Linked DNA regions of Homo sapiens: region 2 is linked to region 1. Evidence: fine-mapped expression QTL. A gene starts in region 1. The other region holds a variant in brackets. All regions are shown on one strand. Distances are between the middles of the regions.

Region 1 (4,380 bases):
ACCTACCCACCAGCAAACCCCTCCCCAACCCAGGACTGCCACTGCTCACAAATTCCAACAGTGTGATATTTGTGGCACCCATCCTTTTGTACCAAAAACATTCTGGAAATCCTTCCCAGGAAGCACAACCATTTTTTTATGTCCTTAATAGAGTGGTAACCACTGCACACATGCATAAGGGCTGTATGCACAGGTTGGTGCCCTGGAATCAGATGGCCTGGGTCCCAAACAACACTTCCCAGATGTGTGACCTTGGATAGGTCACTCAACCTGTGTTTGGATTTCCCACCCAGGAAGGGGAGAATGCTGGTAACAGGTTTGTTGTGAGCCTTTAAAACAATAAAATAATGCACGCTCTTTTCCCAGCAATGAGGAAACCTTAGAAATAAGTGTAGGGGCCAGGGGCAAGCCAACTCTGCTCCTATGCAATACTATTCACATCCTCCATTTTACAGATAAAGGGAGAGGTGCCCAGAGGCACAGTGAGCTGCCAGGGACAGCCCGCTCTTCAGGTTGGTCTCTGTCCTAAGTCCATGCACCTGGAATTCTCACTGGCCACCTTGAGCTGGAGATGACTGGAAGTGAAGAAACAAATACTCCAGAACAAACGCAGAAGAGCGGTGGCAGGTGGCTCGGCACACCAGGTATGGGTGTCCCCATCCTGGACAGGATTTCTCCCAGCACCGTGTGTGTGTGTGTGTGTGTGTGTGTGTGTGTGTGTGTCTGTGTGTGTGTGTGTGTGTGCGTGTGTGTGTGTGTTAGGATAGGGGTGCTGAATTTGATTTACAAGACAAAACAGTGTTGGGAAAGGTGTGGGGAGTGGGTACACATTCCTGCCCACTTCTGATTTGACAAATCCTATGCCCAACCTTGTATTTGGTATCATCGCCCACCCTATCCCAGCATGAGAGGCAAGAAACTGGCTCAGTAATTCTCAGGCTTTAGCAATTCAACGCCCCTACTTATCGTCCTAAAAATTTTTTTATTTTCTGACTTAAAGGAAAAAAGTAAAAAAAAAAAAAAAAAAAAAAAAAAGAGTCAATCCAGTTGCTGAGTGATGTTCAGACAAAGACAGCTGCCAGTCCATTGCCTGCGTTCACCAGCTGAGGAAGAGTACAGGCGGGGACTGGGTGTGTGTTTGGGGACGGCCTGGGCTCTCCGCTGCCTCTCCCTGGAGTGAGCCCTGTCAGGATCCCCCACCCGCCACCCTGCACTCCCCCACCACTGCAGTGCCGCGTGGGGAGGCACCTCCCTGATCCGCAGGAACAATGGGCTGGGGTGGGGGCAGGTGCGGCTTGGAGTGCAGCAGAGGGTGGGGGCCGCAGGCCCGACAGCAAGACAGGGAACCCAGCGCAGATGGTGGCTGTGCTGCCACTGGACTCAGTTTCTCCAGCTTTTGGGGCCCCGCAGAGCCAAGCGCTCGTTTCGTGGCTGAATCTCCCTTGCGTCCCGGCATTTTAATATCATCCTCGCAGGCGGCTTGCCTGTCGCTCCCGGGAAAGATGCCTGGGCCGCGCTCCTCTCCCCGGCGGCCGCTCTCGCCGAGGCCCTGCAGGTCAGGGACGCGCGGCGCCTCCATGCGCCCAACTTTCCCCACTTGGGACCCACAGGAAGACTGGAATCCTGGCCAGCCGGGCCCTCCGTGGGAGAAGCCTTGATTTACAGCCCTGGGCTCCGAAACCTGCTCGTCCTCTTCCCGCAACCCCCTTCCCCGTCCTCTCCGGCTCCCCCACCCTTCGGAGCCCTAATCACGCTCCCCAAAGAAAGCGGCCCTAGCACATCTGCAAAATGCGAGCGTCTGTCCTCCGCACTGGGTGCCTCCCCCTGCCCCCCGCAAGGAAGGGACCATCGAACCCCCGCCGCTTCACCCTTCCCCAGCCCAGTGAGTCCCTGGGGATGGGCGGGGAGGTGGGTGAGAAGCCCTTCGGCCGCAGCTGCAGCCCCCACTCCTGGCTCGAGCGTCCGGCCGGGGTGGGATGGGGCGAGGGAACAGGTCCAAATCTCCGATTTCCCCCAGGCTCCCACTCCTGCCTCGCTGAGTCACGAAAATTACCCGCTGGGGCCACCCGGCCACCCGGCGGCGGGCCCTTTACCCAGCCAGCGCCGGCCTCCGCAGCCCATCGCGCGGGGGCTGCACACGCGGGGCGGTCCTCACCCGCACGCGCGACCAGCCCCGCAGGAGGCGCCACCCGAGGCAGGGACCAACCAGGCGCCTCAGCGGGGGCTGCAGTCCCCGCCGCGGAGTCCGCACCCTGGCGGGGCGCAGAACATGTGACCCGCGGGCCGTCTCCGGTCCACCGGACCCCGGCCCCCGGCCCCGCTGCTGCTGACCCCGGCCCCGCCCGCCAGAACTGGATGCAGCGCGGGCGTCCCCACTTTTCCACGGCGCGCGAGGGGGTGCGGAGCGTTGGGCCAAGCGCGCCTCCTCCCTCCCTGCCCCGCCAGCCGCGGCCGCAGGACCCGCAGCCTGCGCTCACCTCGGGGCCCGTCGCTGCCGCCGGCCTCCTTGTCCGCCATGGTCGCGCAGCCCCGGACCGCGAGGGGAGCCTCCAGCGCAGCGCCCGTGCCCGTGCGGGTCTCTGTCCGCGTCCGCGGCGGCGCTCGGGCCGTGTCTGAGCCGCCGGGCAGCGGGAGCGCTGCTCTGACGCGGCAGCCGCCGCAGCCACGGCTCCTCCCCGGGCCCCGCCCCGGCCCGCCCGGCGCCCCGCCCCTCCGAGCTCGGGCCGGCCGGGAAAGGTCGGGGAAGGCGGGCGCGGGGAACTGCCTGGCTCCGGAGCTGCGCTCCCCGCCCGCCCAGAGCGGCCCGCCGAGGCCCGGCCTCTCCTCTCCCGGCTTCGGGACCGAGCGGTCGCCCCGCAGTCGACCGCGGCGGGGGTAGTGGCGCGCCCGGGGCTGCGCTGCGGGAGCGGATTTCAGGCCCTCGGGGCCCCGCGGCGCGTCCCCTCTTTGGAAGTCACCGAATGGCCAGGCCTGGAGCCCTTCAGCAAGCCCAGCGCGCCCGGCGCTCTCCCGAGGACGCCCGCGCCAGTCCCCACCAGCTTCTGTCTGTCCCCCAGGGTCCCAGGGGAGCGGCCCTGGGCCGGCGCAAAGGCGGGCTGGGTGGACCCCGGCGCGGGCAGGACCCAGGCCGCAGACCAAGGACCTGCGCGGGGGCCGAGCCCGGGGCACCGCCTCCAGGCCGCCTGCGGGACTCCATGGCAACTCCGGACCCAGGGAGGTGCTTGCCCCGGAGGCTGAGTCGCGCCTTCCATATATGGGATCCAGCTGGGCCCTCCTTAGAAGTCTGAGAATAACGATATTAATAATGCAAGGCTTCAGTTGTGAATGATTCATACTCCCTGTCCCCAGCTCCTCCACACACACGCGCCGCTGGCACCTGTTTGGGCCTGGCCAGGCACCCCCTGGGTCCGCGGTGTCACCACCCTGCCTTGGCAAACGAGGGCAGTAATAGGAATCCGAGGAGCACCGTCACTGGGTCGTTTCCGGGTGCCTGGCACTGTGCTACCTGCCTGGTGCTTTACCTCTATCTCCTTTCCTCCCCATAACTAACATTTTGCAGATAAGGAAGCTGAGGATCGGCAGGGTTACAATATCACACCCAGCAGGTGAGTCGCGGAGCTGGGATTCCCACCCAGCTGTAACCACCAGCATCCCTCACTTCCAGAGATGGGTGGCATTTCCCAAAGATCACCTAGGGGAGGCTTCATCGTACAATCCCGTTCTGGATGACGGAGTGGGCAGAGAGCTGCTGCGAGAGCGTTATGGATGACGGAATGGGCAGAGAGCTGCTGCGAGAGCCTGGAGACCAGAAGGTGATGGCAGAGTGACAAGTTCAAAACACAAAACTTGTCTTCTGTCTGCCTGCATTAAAAATCCCAAATGGACAGTTCCTGGCTGTGCATGAAACCACAGTCAAGTTATTTAACCTATCTGAGCCTCAATATTCTCATCTGCGAAATGGGTATAACAGGAGAACCCACTTCATAAAACTGAAGATTAGATAGACTATGCATGTAACATGCTTAGCTTGGGATCTAGCACATGGTAAAAATCATTAAGTCACTGATGGCCCCCGAGGGCCCTTCCTGCCTACGTGCCTGCGACAGCCTGCCCACAGCTCCCCCGCCCTCCTGTCTCACCCCTTCAGTCCATGCTTTGTGATCTGGTCTGTCCCCACCCTACTCCAGCTCCAGCTACAGCCGCTCTGATTCTTCAATCCCTCTCACCCACCCCTGCTTCTCTTATGCTGGTATTTCAAAGACATGAAAATGTGCTTGATGCCTGGATCACCCGTCCTCTCATTTCACCACCACCAGCAACCTAAGAACTTCTCCTTCTCATCATGGACTGCCCAACTCCAGGAAGGCTCCCCTGCATACC
Region 2 (4,380 bases), 33 kb after region 1:
CTGGTATTAACAGGCATGAGCCACTGCACCTGGCCACCTGTGGTTCTTCTGAGAAGGGGCTCATTCAGTCAGGACCGGGGACCCTAGCTAGACTAAAAGTCTGGGTGAGCCAGGGGACTTCCAAACAACTGCAGCCCCAGCTGCTCCCGTTGACTCCCCCTGGGCCCTCCTTCCTCCCACTCCTTTTCCTCTGCACAGCAGGCAAGGTCCCAGGGAGGCAAGAGCAGGCCCAGGTGGGCCCAGGCATTTCCCCAGCCCCTCCAGAGGCCCAGGATGAACTGGCCTGGGATGAGGCCCTGCTAATGAGCAAAGGCTTCAGTCCACTGAGCAGTACATGGTAGCACAGAAGAAGGCCTGGTACACCAACAGCAAATTGCATTTCCTTCTCAGAACCCTCAGCTCTGGTCTGGTACCCCCAGGCAACAACAGCCTAGCGGGCAGACAGGACAGGAGGCCTGGGAGCTGTGCGTCACTCAAAGCCAGACTGGAGAGTGACAATTGCCTTCGCAGCTCCCAGCGGGTTTCGAGAAGGTAACATGACCAGGGAGCAGTTCTGCCTCCCTTCTGTCACCTCTGAACCTCACCTTGGCCCATGGCCCCTCAACCTTGACTGATGCTAAGTAAGCAGTCTCCTCCTCCTTATTCCCTGGCCAACCTGCCCAGCTCACAGTGGGGGCCTCAGCCAAGGGTTGTCAACTGCAGCCTGAGAAAGTCTTTCTCACTGACTTGCCCCAAGAAGGGATTCCACTCAGCTGACAATTATGAAGCTCTGGCTGGTCCCTGGTCCTGGGCAGGGGCAAAGCTGCAAAACAGCCCACAGGGAGCTCACAGTGCCTGTGGTAATGATGATGACGATGATGGTGATGATGCTGACAATGGTCATTATCATGGTGACGGGGTGGAGGACTTGGAGCCAGGAGACCTAATTACAAATGATAACTATGCCACCATTCAGCTGAATGACCTTGGGTAGGTTACTTACCCTCTTTGGTCTTGAGTGGCATTCACTATGACATGGGGTGGGGGAACCTGCTCTGTGGCAAGGGCTTTTTTTTTTTTTGAGACGGAGTCTCGCTCTGTCCCCCAGGCTGGAGTGCAGTGGCGGGATCTCTGCTCACTGCAAGCTCCGCCTCCCGGGTTCACGCCATTCTCCTGCCTCAGCCTCCCAAGTAGCTGGGACTACAGGCGCCCGCCACTACGCCCGGCTAATTTTTTGTATTTTTAGTAGAGACGGGGTTTCACCGTTTTAGCCGGGATGGTCTCGATCTCCTGACCTCGTGATCCGCCCGCCTCGGCCTCCCAAAGTGCTGGGATTACAGGCGTGAGCCACCGCGCCCGGCCGGCAAGGGCTTTTTTGAAATATTTGCCATAGAGCACTCTGCGAGGGTCCCAGGTGATACTGCACCAATGCCTAGTTCAGTCCCTGACCAGTGTGGTCCCTGACCAGCAGCATTAACAACTCTTGGGCACTTAATAGAAATGCAAATTCTCAGGCCCCAAGGCAGATCTACTGACCCAGAGACTCTGGGTAGGGCCCAGCAACTGCACATCTCACACTCTTGCCAAAGTGTGAGAACCCCTGGAATAAAGAAATGTCAATGGTGCTCTTGGGTCTCTTCACAGACGTGGCTCTGCTAGAGGACTGGCCTTTTGGAGCAGGAGTTCATGGCCCAGATCCATCTCTTAGGAGAAAGGATTGGAGAGTGGGACATTGAGAGGGAGGCCTTCTGTGCACCCCTTCATTCACCCACCAGAAAACCCAGGTCCACCATTGAATAAGCTCCTCCCCCAGTCCCATGCCTGCCCACGTGGCCCTGGCCTGACTCCACCCTGACCCTGCAGGCTGCACAAGCCTGGAGCCCTCCACCCTGGCCCCTGCAGGCCCCAGTCCTGCCGGCTCCTGCACCAGCCCCTCGTGTTGGCTATACTGCCATGGCATAGGTCCAGCTGGCATCCTGTCACTCCACTCCCTCCCCAAGGGCCCCAGGTCGACTGCTACACACCCACCGCCACTGCTCCCAACTGTGCTGCTTTGGGGGACTCCAGCATTCCTTTGCTCCCTCCCGCCCATCCTGTGGCTGTCTCTGCTGAGTCACTCTTTATTAGTGTCCTCCCAGACACCTG[G/A]CACAGGTGCCCCCAAGGGATTGGGCCAGAAGCCAATAGCAGCAATTGCTGCCATTTACCAAGTGCTGATTCTGTACTAAGAACGTGCGAGTTCCTTATATCAGTTATCCCACCACTCACAAACCTATGGATAGGGCCTCAGGACTCCCATTTTACAGATGGATGAATTGAGACTCAGGAAGGAAAGATCCCAGGGTCACACAGGGCCACATAGCCAGTGAGACGGGAGCCTGGGATTTGAACTCCTGCCTGTCCGGTTGCAAAGCCAGCTCTCTCTGTCACCCCACACTGTCTCTTCTAGAGAGCCCTGGGGAGGACGGGGGCCAGCCAGTGGGCAGCCTGGGAAGGGAGTCTCTGTAGCTGGAAATGGCCAATGTATTTTCTAGAAACAGGAAATCTAACATTGACCGTGAAGTTTGTTTCCTGGTCAGTTCTGTCTGTTCCCACTGACAGCCTCGTGATACTGACTTTCAGGGCACCCGATGAGAGGGGATGGAAGAAGGACCTCCCGCCTCTCCCCACAGGAGTGCTGGGTGAGCCCTGACTTTCCTCAGTGCTCGGATGCTGGGAAGGTGCTGGGGCCATTTCATTTGCTTGCTAAAGGAAACACTCAGGCCAGGGGGCCAGAGGATTTGGGGACATCAGGGCACAGAAGTAACAGGGGGCTTTCAAGCCCTTTCCCAACTCCTCCCCGAGACAGTGACCTGGCCTAATCCTGCAGCCCCTATGACCTCTCTGTCCCTGGGGTCTTGTGAGGGCTCCTGCAGCTGGGGAGCTATGCCTTCTACTGTGGTCCCCAGCCTGGCACAGACTCTCTTATGTGACTCCACCAGGGACTAGACTGGGGGCAGCTGAGTGCCATAAAAGAAGTTAATGTGGCCTCACGTTGGTGGTGAGTGAGGGGCTTTGGGTCTACCTGCCATCCTCTGCGTCCCCTCTGGCCTCCAGTTAAGTGACCCATCCCATTGGTCTCTGTCCACTGAGCTGACTGCCCCCCAGTACCCAAGACAAGTGCCACTGCTCCTGGTTCCCAGGTCCCTGTTTTGGGTGACCACCTCACCCCCTCCCTGCCTCAGCACCTCTGTGGCCCACCCCTGGGACTCCTGTGGGACACAGGCAGGTGTCATGGGTGGACAACAAGGAGCATCTCAGGTCCGTCCGCCTGGACGCCCCCCTCTGCCTCGGGATTTCGCTCAAAGCAGCCTCCAGCTCTTGGCCGCTTCCTCCCGCTGGTCTCACCCCCAACAAACCTCTCCCAGGCAAAGCATAGTGCTTTCTCCTCTGCCTTCCTGTCTCCCAGGAACTCACTTCCATTGTATCCAGAATTCCTTCTATTTATGGCTTACAGTAAAACTCTACGCTCAAAATCAGCCGGGATTGATTCCTTATATTTAGAAAGAAGCTTTGGAATTCAGAAAATTTTTTTTTTCTTAACAAAACCCGGCATTCAAGACTATTGTTTTGCCTAGAAGACAAAACAAAATGGAAAGCCTAATTTGATCGTCAAAGTGAACAACGAATTTATTATTGTAGCAGAATCCACCGCTTCCCTGAAGTACTCAAGCCATTGATTCAGTGGATGCCACAGAGCATCAAAATATAAGAGCAATTAAAAATACATGAGTTTTATTTTCTTAATTGTTAACTCCATATACAATGCTTAAAACTCTAAAAACTGGGCTTAATGTAATCTTAATTAGAATCATAAACACTATTTCAGAATGTATTTTAGATGTATATCCTTAAAAGTTTGATGCAAATATGATAATTTAGGGATGTGAGGCATCATATAAGATGCTTAATGTCTGTACCAGGAATCTGGACTAGGTTCGAGAATGGGAGATATTGACAACCTGGACTTGGTTCAAGTTTGCTTTTAATTTGATTTACTGCAGAAGCATCAAGGAAGCAATGCACAGGGGAAGGAGGTTGTAAGAAAGCTCCTGGGTGGACCATGGCTCCTGTGTAGCCCGCTGAATTGTTCTCTGACATGAGTAGTGTGAGACGCCAGCCAGGCTGGAGGGGCGCTGAGCTGCAGATGCGCCCCTTTTCTTCCCTGCCTCGTCAACACCCGGGTGTTAAGTTCTTGCCGCGTGGCACTGGGTGGTCCCCCCACATCTGAGGCTGCACTGCAGTCTCCCATTTATGCCCCTTGGGAACTTTACATGGACAGCTCAGGCATGGCCTGTCACACTGACAAGCAACCAAAATAATCTAAATAATAAAAGAAATGACTTAAAACAGTATCTTTTAGAA

Evidence for each region. PIP is the estimated chance that this variant, and not a neighbour inherited with it, causes the effect.
Region 2: its variant is the best candidate, but not a certain one, in a credible set for the expression of HSPA12A in unexposed skin (GTEx, PIP 0.86).

What each region holds. Positions count from the first base shown.
Region 1 is chr10:116,739,953-116,744,332 of GRCh38, forward strand. HSPA12A (heat shock protein family A (Hsp70) member 12A) reads right to left here and starts at 2,614. Exons shown (of 12, transcript NM_025015.3): 1 at 2,478-2,614. The coding sequence starts at 2,517. RefSeq lists enhancers at 2,479-3,183, 3,184-3,887 and a silencer at 2,479-2,928.
Region 2 is chr10:116,772,968-116,777,347 of GRCh38, forward strand. LOC105378498 (a long non-coding RNA gene) reads right to left here and starts at 1,033. Exons shown (of 3, transcript XR_946339.2): 1 at 585-1,033. It also overlaps a transcript of HSPA12A not described here. RefSeq lists an enhancer at 1,909-2,408. The variant G/A (reference allele first, on the strand shown) is at 2,125.